3 linked regions of the Homo sapiens genome follow. The protein of the gene in region 3 purifies or fractionates together with the protein of the main gene of each other region. This does not show direct contact. Each region holds a gene or a part of one and is shown on either strand. Other genes may lie near its edges.

Evidence for each region.
Region 1: the proteins of MB (region 3) and LYPLAL1 fractionate together in Homo sapiens (co-fractionation; one large-scale study listed by BioGRID). This does not show direct contact.
Region 2: the proteins of MB (region 3) and NQO1 fractionate together in Homo sapiens (co-fractionation; one large-scale study listed by BioGRID). This does not show direct contact.

Annotation. Positions count from the first base shown.
Region 1 is NC_000001.11:219,204,841-219,208,492, forward strand, and holds part of LYPLAL1 (lysophospholipase-like protein 1), read left to right. Parts: intron 1-3,652.
Region 2 is NC_000016.10:69,719,961-69,723,612, reverse strand, and holds part of NQO1 (NAD(P)H dehydrogenase [quinone] 1), read left to right. Parts: intron 1-3,652. UniProt on the Homo sapiens protein: Flavin-containing quinone reductase that catalyzes two-electron reduction of quinones to hydroquinones using either NADH or NADPH as electron donors.
Region 3 is NC_000022.11:35,614,470-35,618,596, forward strand, and holds the start of MB (myoglobin), read right to left. Parts: upstream 2,861-4,127; 5' UTR 2,789-2,860; coding exon 2,694-2,788; intron 1-2,693. UniProt on the Homo sapiens protein: Monomeric heme protein which primary function is to store oxygen and facilitate its diffusion within muscle tissues.

The sequences.
Region 1 (3,652 bases), on a different chromosome or scaffold from region 3:
AATACTGTTATAATTTAGGCTTAACTTAGATCTAGGATGTATAGAACCTGACAAATGATATGAATAGATTTATCAGAATTTTGATAATATAAGCATATTATCAGAATTTTGAAGCAGAGAGAATCAAGTCTTTCTGGAACTACACTGGAGTAATTTACGTGGATGATCTAAATATCCATCATGACAGGAATGGTTGAGGGAATGATGGCCTATTAATAGAATTGAGTATTATGTAACCATTAAGTACTACATGCACACACACATAAAAAGCACTCAGTAGGCCGAGGCGGGTGGATCATGAGGTCAGGAGATCGAGACCATCCTGGCTAACAAGGTGAAACCCCGTCTCTACTACAAATACAAAAAATTAGCCGGGCGCGGTGGCGGGCGCCTGTAGTCCCAGCTACTCGGGAGGCTGAGGCAGGAGAATGGCGTGAACCCGGGAAGCGGAGCTTGCAGTGAGCCGAGATTGCGCCACTGCAGTCCGCAGTCCGGCCTGGGCGACAGAGCGAGACTCCGTCTCAAAAAAAAAAAAAAACAAAAAAAACAAAAGCACTCAGTAAGTATGTGTTCAATTAAAAATAATTATAAAATTTTGTAATTCTGTAGAAAGACTTTCAAATTAGTATTACATGAAAAAAATAAGATACATTGAACATGTAGAGTTAGTTTAACTGTAAAAATGAAATTTAAGAGAACATGTCAAAATTCTGTACAGTACAAAATATTGTAAAATTTTGTACAAGAAACTTTTGTACAAGAAACATTTTGTACAATGGGTGTATATTAATTTTGCAATAAGATTAAAAATAAAAATAAATGAAGGGATAGTTAGAATTCCCAAGATGAAGTCTAGCATCAAAATTTCCAGCCTGCCTTTTTCTGAACTTGTACACGTTTTCTCTATAGCCCAGCTGGGAGCTAAAACTTCAGAATGATAGCATTCTTCTACTTTCTTTGAACATATATGTATTTTAATTAAACATTTTATGTTTCTTCAACAACTAGTAGGACTTTAAAGGCTCTGGACTGTTGTTCTAACAGTTTTCCATAGAGGAAAATAAATATTTTGTTTATCCCACAAGTTTTGTATGAGAGGAGATATCCAAATAAATGTAATAGTCATAATTTCTGTATTCCCAAATCTGAAGAATAATTATAATAGTATACCAGTTAAATGGAAGAGGTGTTGAAATTTAGAATGGTAATGGACTTTATTGCATGTTTAAAGTTCTTTTCAGTTGATAGCACACTTTAAGTGGATTTTTTTAAGGATTTTACTTTCAGATTGATTATCTTAATGTTCCTAATATAGTCTTTTTATAGATTGTTTCTGTTTTATTTTATATAAAGAGTTCATAAAGCCAGGTTTATTATTTTTTAACATGTTTTATTCAGCTTGTTAATCTTAAGTGTATGTTGAAATGTTAACTCTTGACATTTTAAATACTTTGCCAGCAACCGTAAATACCCGTTATAACCATTACCTACAATGGATTTACTATTTTCGTATTTACTTATTGAACAGTAGATTTTATATCATTTTTTAGACTCTTAGGTGGAAAATTGAATTCAAATAACTAGTTCTTTGTGTTAAATTTTCTTCTGTTAGGAAAAAATACACAAAGTCCCTTTTCACAGTAGTGTCCTATGCTAAAGGTCATTGTATTGTCAAAGACGGCTAGTGAGGAGTTGCAGATTACCTCACAAAATCATAAATGGGAAAGGGACTTAGATTAAATCTTAAAATAATAATATTTCAATGAGTATATTTTTCTTCATTGTAACTTAAGAGAATTAAACATGAAGTTAAATGTCTGCAGGATGCATTTATGTGTATTCATAATGACATTTTATGTGCGGGTAAATGTTTTCTTTCTCTCTTTTTTTTTTTTTAAGTTGTTACCATCAAAAGTCTCTGAAACTACATAAAGTGATTACATTCCCTGGTCAACAAAAATGAAGTGTTTGTCACTTCATATGTAAAATTTTCTTGATAGTTATGCTTTTAAAATCTCTTTTTAATGTAAGTTTTTGCCTACTAATCTTTTATTTACATTTTATCTTTTAATGATCTTTATCTTAGCCTCAAAATTATCTATGAAATACTAATTTTATTTTTGCTTCATTTATAAATTTTGAAGCTTTTTTCAATCATTCGTACAGCTTAGATGGTCTAGAACTATGGTAGCCACTAGCTACATGTTGCTCTTTAGTTAAATAAAATATAGAATTGGTTCCTTGGTCACACTAACATATTTCAAATATTAATTAGTTACATTTGGCAGACACATAATTCAGGCTCTTGAATTTCTCAGAAAAAAATAATAAATTTGCTCCTGCAGCCTTGTTATCTATCGCGTGTGGATTTTCTTTAAATGGTGACCATATTTTAACTTTTTGTTTTTACCCATTTTACTTAATTTTGAATTATTTGCCACACAGCTGTGATTCTCAGACATCTGATTTATGGCATAAGAGCTTTTAAAAATTAGACATATGCAGTGAGATTTTGTTAGTGGGTCTGGGATTGGGTCTAAAATCTTTATTTTTAAGAGGTCAGATTAGGAATGATGGGCTTGGAGCACACTAATCATTCATTCCTAGATTTTGTAGGTTTTTTTAAGCTTTACTTTTATATCAAATTAAATCACCAAAAACCTACATTTTCTGATGATAAATTTGTCTCCTTGCAGAGATATTGTTACTGAGTTACAGTTACATTGTTCATTTGTTTAATAAGTATAAGCACTTTCTGTGTGCCAGGCACTGTTGTAAGCATAGAGGGATACATTGATGAATAAAACACAAAAATCCCAGCTCCCATCATTAAATTCTAGTGAAAGTTAAGTCTTTATGTCCCAGAATTTTATGAGAAGAATCAGCAACAGAAGTGGCAGTATGTAGAATGTCTGATTTTGAATTTTATGTTTAATAAAGATCCATTTAATAAATTCTATTAAGGAATTCAATGCTAAGAAAAATTTCTAGTATGACTTGTTATGATTCCTTCTGTTAAAGAATATTGCCTTGCTACAGAGAAACTGTTAAATGCCCAGTTGCACACGTAATTACTGCCCCCACCCTAACATCATGGTCTGTAAGTCTCTTTTTTTATTCTCTGTGTCTCACTCTTTGCTCAAATCCCATCTCTTCCTCTCTCACATTCTCTCCTATTTTAGAGATGTAGTTTTATTATTAACAGTGTGTTTGATTTTAAGCAACCTGAAATTCCTTTGTAAGTAAATGGGCTGTAAAGAACAGAGGGGAAATTGGAAGAGATGAAGGAAGTGAGTGTTTGGTAAGCTCTATTCTGTGAACTTTTAGGAAAGCTAGAATTGTGTTCTGAGAGATAGGGATTCTTAAACTGAAAGTAGATTTCTGTATTTACAGTAACTGTACATTTTAAAAGTTCTCGCAATTTTAGTTTTTATAACTGATTAAGTATTTGTATTTAAAAGGTTGGTGGAAAATCTAGAGATTAGTCCATCTATCTTGTTTTACTATAAATGAAATCCAGCATTTTAAATAATTTACACAAAGACATTCAGCTTGGGAGTATCACAGGCAGGACTAGAACTAGTTTCCTTAATGTTGTCTCTTTGATAAGCTTAAGAGATATTTGTAAATTTTTTACTACTTTCATTAGAAA
Region 2 (3,652 bases), on a different chromosome or scaffold from region 3:
TTAACCAGGCTGGTCTCTAACTCCTGACATGAGGTGATCTGCCCGCCTCAGCCTCCCAAAGTGCTGAGATTACAGGTGTGAGCCACCGCGACCCACCCACAACCTTCTTTTGATCATTTTTCTTTTGAGTTGTTTTGGGGATCTACCTATTCCAGGTACTGCACTTTGATGGTTATATTTGTTGCAAATATATTATTCCTGCTTGTGTGTTGCCTTACATGAAAAATTGTAAAGTCACAGGCCTGCTTATAGCTATTAGAGTCTGAGCTCCTTGAAAGAGCAAGAGATGGATATCCTGATTTGCTCATTTTCTGAGAAGTGCCTTGACTGTCTTACTACTTAGAAAATGCTTGTTAACATTGATGAGAAGTCAATAAAATAAAAACTGTTGGCTGGGCGCTGTGGCTCACGCCTGTAATCCCAGCAGTTTGGGAGGCCGAGACAGGCGGATCACGAGGTCAGGAAATCGAGACCATCCTGGCTAACACGGTGAAACCCCGTCTCTACTAAAAATACAATTAGCCGGGCGTGGCGGCGAGCGCCTGTAATCCCAGCTACTCTGGAGGCTGAGGCAGGAGAATGGCGTGAACCTGGGAGGCGGAGCTTGCAGTGAGCCGAGATCGCGCCACTGCACTCCAGCCTGGGCGACAGAGCGAAACTCTGTCTCAAAAAAACAAACAAACAAAAACTGTCAGAGCGGCGATCAGTAAACATTGATAAGACTAATGGCAAGGTAAGTTACAAAGAAAATGCCTGTTAGAGCTGAATATGCTCACTTCCCTCCCAATCATGTTAAATCCATGGGTTAAAGAGGTAGGAATTTGTTGAGGCAGCCTCAGAGCTTCCTTTTCCTTTTTCCAAGCTATCCCAAGCAAGTCAATCACTTCCAGCGCATTGAAATCATCACCAGACACCTATTCCACTGAGTCTTAGTTTTAAGAGTCCAAAACCCTAGGACCAAGTTTGGAAATCCCCTGGTTTGGCATATTGGGCCCTGAAAGTTACACTTCGCTGAATTTAGCCCAAGAGGCACTTGCCTTGCTAGATGTGGTCAATAATAAAAGCAGGAAGAGAGCTTAAGGTTTAAATGTGCCTTTCTAGTTATTTTAGTTATTTCTAGTTATTCAGATGGTGCAAAAAAGTTGCAGATGCCGGCTGGGCGCGGTGGCTCACGCCTGTAATCCCAGCACTTTGGGAGGCCAAGGCAGGTGGGTCATGAGGTTAGGACATCGAGACCATCCTGGCTAACATGGTGTCTCTACTAAAACAAAAAATACAAAAAATTAGCCGGGCGTGGTGGCACGCGCCTGTAATCCCAGCTATTCGGAGGCTGAGGAAGGAGAATCGCTTGAACCCGGGAGGCAGAAGTTGCTGTAAGCCGAGATGGCGCCACTGCACTCCAGCCTGGGTGACAGAGCAAGACTCCATCTCCCCCGCCCCCACCCCCACCCTGCCAAAAAAGTTGCAGATGCCTTCTCTCCCAGCTCCACCCACTGTTCATGGTAGGGTATGAAGTAGCAGCGCACATTATCAGGAGCAACTGTGGGGGTAAGCGTCCTTTCTCTGGCAATTCGCTCTATGCCCTTGTACGCTGTTGTTTGTATTTCTCACTGTTTGTAAGTCTCACTGTCGCCCAGGCTGGAGTACAGTGGTGTGATCACGGCTCACTGCAACCTCCACCTCCCTGGCTCAAATGATCTTCCCACCTCAGCTTCCTAAGTAGCTGGGACTACAGGCACACACCACTACGCTCAGCTAATTTTTTTTTTTTTTTTTTTTTTGGTAGAAACGGGGTTTCTCCATGTTAGCCAGGCTGGTCTCAAACTCCTGGGCTCAAGCAAGCTGCCTGCCTCGGCTTCCCAAAGTGCTGGGATTACAGGTGTGAGCCACCACGCCCAGCCACTCTCTGTGTTTTTAAATTATTCCAGCTTCACCACTTAATGACTACACACTTGGGTAACTTGCTTCTCTCCTGTGCCTCAGTTTTCTCATCTGTAACATGGGGCTACTCATGGTATTGACCTCATAGGGTGTGTCTCAGTCTATTTTGTGCTGCCATACATAATACTTGGGACTAGGTAGTTAATAAAAAAGAGAAATTGATTTCTCACAGTTCTGGAAGCTGGGAAGTCGAAGATCAAGGTGCTGGCAGGTTTGGCTGTCTGGTGAGAGCTGCATTTGGAGGAATGCTGCGTCCTTACATAGACGGTGGGAGGTAGAAGGTGGAAGGGCAGGTGAGCCCCGTGCTGGGCGAAGCCTCTTTTATGAGGGCCTTAATCCCACTCATGAGGAAGGAGACCCCCTCGCCTAATCACCTATCACAGGCCCCATCTGTTAATCCTCTCACATTGGCAGCACCTGAATTTTGGAGGGGGACACGTTTAAAACATAGCAGGTTGTCCTGACAAAGGAAGAAAGTGCAGGCCGGGCGTGGTTGCTCACACCTATAATCCCAACATTGTAGGAGGCTGAGGCAGGCAAAATTGCCCCAGCCTGGGCAACACGGCTCCAAATTTGACCAGCCTGGGCAACATGGCAAATCCCTGTCTCTACAAAAAAAAAAAAAAAATTAGGTGTGGTGGTGCACACCTGTAGTATCAGCTACTCAGGAGGCTGAGGTGGGAGGATAGCTTGAGCCTGAGAGGTCAAGGCTGCAGTGACCTGAGATCATGCCACTGCATTCCAGCCTGGGCAACAGATCGAGACCCTGTCTCAGAAAGAGAAAAAGAAAAAAAAGGAATGCAAAGCACTTAGGGCAGTGCCTAGCACTAAGGATCCACTAAATACTGTTCTTGCAAATTGAAGCATGCTGCCTCTGACAACCTTGTTAATATAAAAGAGGCCCATTTCCCTTCTACCTGTACCTCTTTGCCATTTCTTATAAAGGAAGCTGAGCTGTTAATAGTTCAATGTGATTGGCCTGGCACGGTGGCTCACACCTGTAATCCTAGCTACTGGGGATGCTGAGGCAGGAGAATCGCTTGAACCTGAGAGGCGGAGGTTGCAGTGAGCCAAGTTCATGCCACTGCACTCCAGCCTGGGCAACAGAGTGAGACTGTCAAAAAAAAAAAAAAGTTTAATGTGATCACTGCACATTTTTCCCCCTCATACCAAGGTGCTGCAAGTCTACATACAAATATATGTCATTTCTTTTTTTCTTTTTTTTTTGTATTTTCTTTTTTCTTCCTTCCCTTCCCTCTCTCCCTTCCTCTCACTTCTTTCATTTTAAATAAAAATGGGTTCATATTCACTTGCTTTTTTATCAGTTAATAATATAGCATGGATATCTTTTTGAGTCACTACATATAGTTAATTCATTTTAATTTTTTTAATTTTTAAAATTTGTTTATTTGAGACAGGGTCTCCCTCTGTCACCCAGGCTGGAGTGCAGTGCGGCGATCACGGATCACTGCAGCCTCAACCTCCTGGGTTCAAGTGATCCTTCCATCTCTCAGCCTCCTGAGTAGTTGGGACTACAGGCATACACCACCATGCCCAGCTAATTTTTGTACGTTTTGTAGAGAAGGGATTTCGCTTTTGTCATGTTGCCCAGGCTGGTCTTGAACTCCTGGGCTCAAGCAATGTTCCCGCCTTGGCCTCCCAAAGTGCTGGAATTAGAAGCGTGAGCAACCGTACCTGGTCAACAGTCTCT
Region 3 (4,127 bases):
CCCAGCAAGACTCCATCTCAAAAAAAAAAAAAAGGAGCAAGGATTCTGGATCCAAGCTGCCTGAATTTGAATTCCAGCTCCTTTCTTACTTGCTGTGTGACTTGGCGTAAGTTACTTAACCTCTCTGTTAAATGTGGTGATCATAATCATATCTACCTCATAAGATTGTTGTCAGGCTTCAGTGAGTGAAACACTTAAACAGAGCCCAGCAATCAGTATGTGCTGAATAAATGGTTGCTGTCTTTCTCCTCCTCATCATCTCTACCATTATCATTATCATTATCATTATCATCACCATCACCCAGGAATTTTTGGTCCTGCCTGTGGCTGCCATTAACCGGTGGAGACTCTCAGGCCCAGTTCCTCCCTGTAATGAGAAGTAGTGACCACCACTGGTGATTTTCAAACATTTTATGACCTTGAAATCCTTTGTTCCCCCCGCTCCCCAAAACAGCCAAAGTAAATAAAACAAAAAAGGTTTGAGTAAAGAAAGGAAAAACAGGGGTGTGGAGCCCACTCAGCAGCCCCCTCCCTTCCGAAGCCCCACTCCTGGAGCCAGAATCTCCAAGTGACCTTCCAGCTTCTGTGTTCTAGAATTTTATGTTTGTGTACGTGCAGTGAAGGCCTCAGTGTTTTACAGACTGGGCTTCATGGAATTTGCCCTCTTTTACAATCAGAAGATTGGAGACATAACCTTTCAAGGTCAGTTAGAAAATCCAGAGTCAGTATCTAGAACAAAGTCAAGATGCCAACTCTCACGGGTGGCATTTGCAGTCCTGGGCATGAGCCTCCTCCACCCTGCCCCCAGGGAGGCCATCCTCCCTGTACCCCAAATACTGAGAGGGCAGAACCAGCTGGCACAGTCTCTGCATGTCCCACAACCTAAGACGTGACAGGGCACCAGGCCTCTGGGACCTTTCAGGGACCAGCAACCCTAGGCATTATGTCTTATCCCTGGCTCCCGGCCCCCGGCAAACCTCCGTGATCCTCCCTGATGATGCAACACCCTGAGTCTCTTTCAAGACGTACAAGTCACTGCCTTAGGTCTGGCAGCTCCCAAATCACCTTGGAAAGACCTCTGCTCTGCAAACTCTGGTCTCCTACCTCCACGCCTGACTGTCCTGCCTCCTCGCCAAAGGCAAAAGTGCATCAAGGACTCAGAGAATTCTAGGGCATGAGCGTGGGACGGGATCTCGGAGACCATGGAAGACAATCCCTTCGCTCAACCAGCAGAGAAATAAGGCCCAGAGGTGGAGAGACTTGTCCAAGGTCACATGGCATATCTGTGGCCCAGGAGTTGATGTCAATTTGTGTGTGTGTGTTGGTCGGGGGAGCACTTTGTGCAATCCAACAGGGCCTGTTGCAGCCAGATGACAGGGACAGGAGAAGAAAGACATAAACACACTACGATGCCATTACAGTCAACAGAAAACTCAACTCTTCTTCCTCAAGTGTTTCTAGCACGGATCACCAACGGCTCAAATTTTAGATAACGGAGCTTCCAGGACCAGCCATGCTCCCGAGGTAGACGGAAGCTGGAAATGGGTAAAGCCCAAGGGAGACCCAAAGGACGACGGAGTGGAAGAGGAAAATTGGCTCTGGCTCACAAATAAGGAGAAATTAATCTGCAAATTAAAGTGCCAAAGACAATCCATTCACTTGTGGCAACCCCGGCGCCCACTTCCTTCCTCCCGTTGGCAGAAACGTTGATTCTTAACCTATTAGACTTCTGAGGGAACCAGCTCAGAATGGTGAGGGAAGGGGCCAAGAGAAGAGTGTATCACCTTTGGGATAGAAGGCAACGAGGAGATGAGCTTCTATGTACAAACCACAGCCACCCTCTATTTACAAACCTCAGAATTTTGTTTTCTTTGGTGTATTCTGGAATCCCTTGTGGTAGAAGGCAGGATATACTTGCAGACCACATCATTCAGACCTCTCAAACTAGAGACATACTCAACATCGAAGGTCACTAATGAGCCTCTATCTTCTGTTCTCTAATTGCAATGCTTTGAAAGGTCCCTAGCCTGGGCTTCATCAGTAATAGCTACTAACATTTCTAGGACTCAGTATATGCCAGGAACCATGCCAGGCCTCTTGCATGCATTATTTTATTTAATTCTCACATCTCCTCTAGGATATAGATATTAGGATATCCCCTCACTGTACAGGAGAGGAAATTGAGGCTCCGAGAGGTTGAGTACTTTCCCAAAGGTCACCCAGTGGCTCAGTGGCAGAGCCAAGTCTAGAACCAGATCTGTCTCCCCTTGAAGAGCATGTCTTAACCTTGACACTTTAAGAGCATTTAATGAGCTGTGACTCTGGAAATGTCCTCCCCTTCTCAGTCCCTTTTTGTCCTCATCCTGTAAGAGAGGTGGCTGTACAAAATCTCTCAGGACCCTTGTTAACTCTGACTGTCTATAATTCTAAAATTCTTCCTGGTGGACTCTGAGCATCCTAGGTTTGATTCTCATGCTTCCTCCAGCTGCTGACATCAGCCTGAAATGGCTCCTTTCCCTCTCCTGAGTCCAATCCCTGACACTTAAAAGCAAAGAAAAAGCAAGTGACCGTTCTAACACCCTTAACTAATGCAGCCAACTGACCTACCCCACGTGCAAACTTTCCACCTTGCAGCTGAACACCCTTGATCTTAGGGTGTGGGTGGCAGGGGCAATGGAATCTCTTCCTTTTACCTGATGAGGACTTCCTGCCCATGGCCTGGGATGTCAGCCTCCACCTTCCCCCAGACGTTCAGCACCAACTGCCATTCCCCGTCGCTGAGCCCCATGGCGCAGTCTGAAGAAGACAAAAAGAGCAAGTATGGGCTCACTGGGTGTCCTGGCCCCAACAGCTGGGGTTTGAGGCTGCCTGGTCCCAAGGGCGTTTTTATACCTTCTGGGATGCTTGACAAAGATCGCTCAATGGCTCGCTGTCCCCCTCCCCTGCCCTCCTTCACTTTCTCTCTCTCATCCAGGGAGGGTCTAATCTTTTCCTTTCTCTAGCCCTCACATGGGAAGCTATTTTAGGGCAGGTGCCATTGTGGCGAGGCAGGACAGCTCAGGCCACAGGGGGTGGGGTGGTTGTGCGTGTGGAAAGAAGGGGAGGAGGTTGGGCACTGTCTGGACTCTCATAGCCGACAGAAAGGGCACCACAGAAGCCGACGCCAGCAGCCTGAAACCCAACGCTCCCTGCGGTCAGCCCTCCCAAGAGGACCTGTCATGTTTCTAAGCTTGGCCACCAGGTGCCCCGGCTGGCCCCAGGACAGTCCTGGCCATTCGCAACCTCTCACGCACCTTCTGCCCCTTTGCCAGAGACCCCTCACCCAGCCAGAAGTGACAGAAAGGAACCGGATGGTTTTGTGCTTATAGCCAGGTGGTCCCAGGCAAGTCCACAATCTCTTAGAGAACTCCTGTTTTCATGACCCTGCTCAAAGGTTTCCCTCTGAAAAGTTTTTCTTGACATACTCCTTTGAGACACCACTAATTGCTTCCTCCTTTCCTTTCTTTGTGTAAGTTCCTGTTGCATTGCTTCCCAAAGGGCATCCTATTTCCTGGTTTTCATGCCATCTTCTCCATTAGGATAATAGCAGCCAGCACTCACAAGAGACTTTGCTGGGTGCCAGGCCCTGTCCCAAACACTTGGCATTTGGTAACTCATTTAATCCCCGCAAGACCTCCCAATGTGATAGGTACTGACATTATCCCTATTTAATTGAGAGAAAGTAGGGAAACATCACTGATGTACAACTAGTCGCTGGCAGAGTTGGGATTTGAACTCAGGAAGCCACGCCCCTTTCTTTGCAGTTTTCAGGAGGGCAGGAGCTCTGTTTTATTAACCCACGTATCTCTTGGGCCTCACATGGTGCTTTGTGCCAAGTTTGAACTGAATAAATGTTTATTGAGTAAATGGGTGGATGGTTTTGCAAAGAAAGAGAGTGGAGGATGATTAGCCTTATCTTACATCCATGCATCCTCCTTCAATCCATTCAGGTATTCAACCATCTATCCATTTATCCACTTGTCCATCCAGTTACTCATCCATCCATCCATCTGTCATCCCTTAATTCATCCATCCATCATCTCTTTGTCTATCCATGCATTCACTCATCTATCCATCCACCACCCATC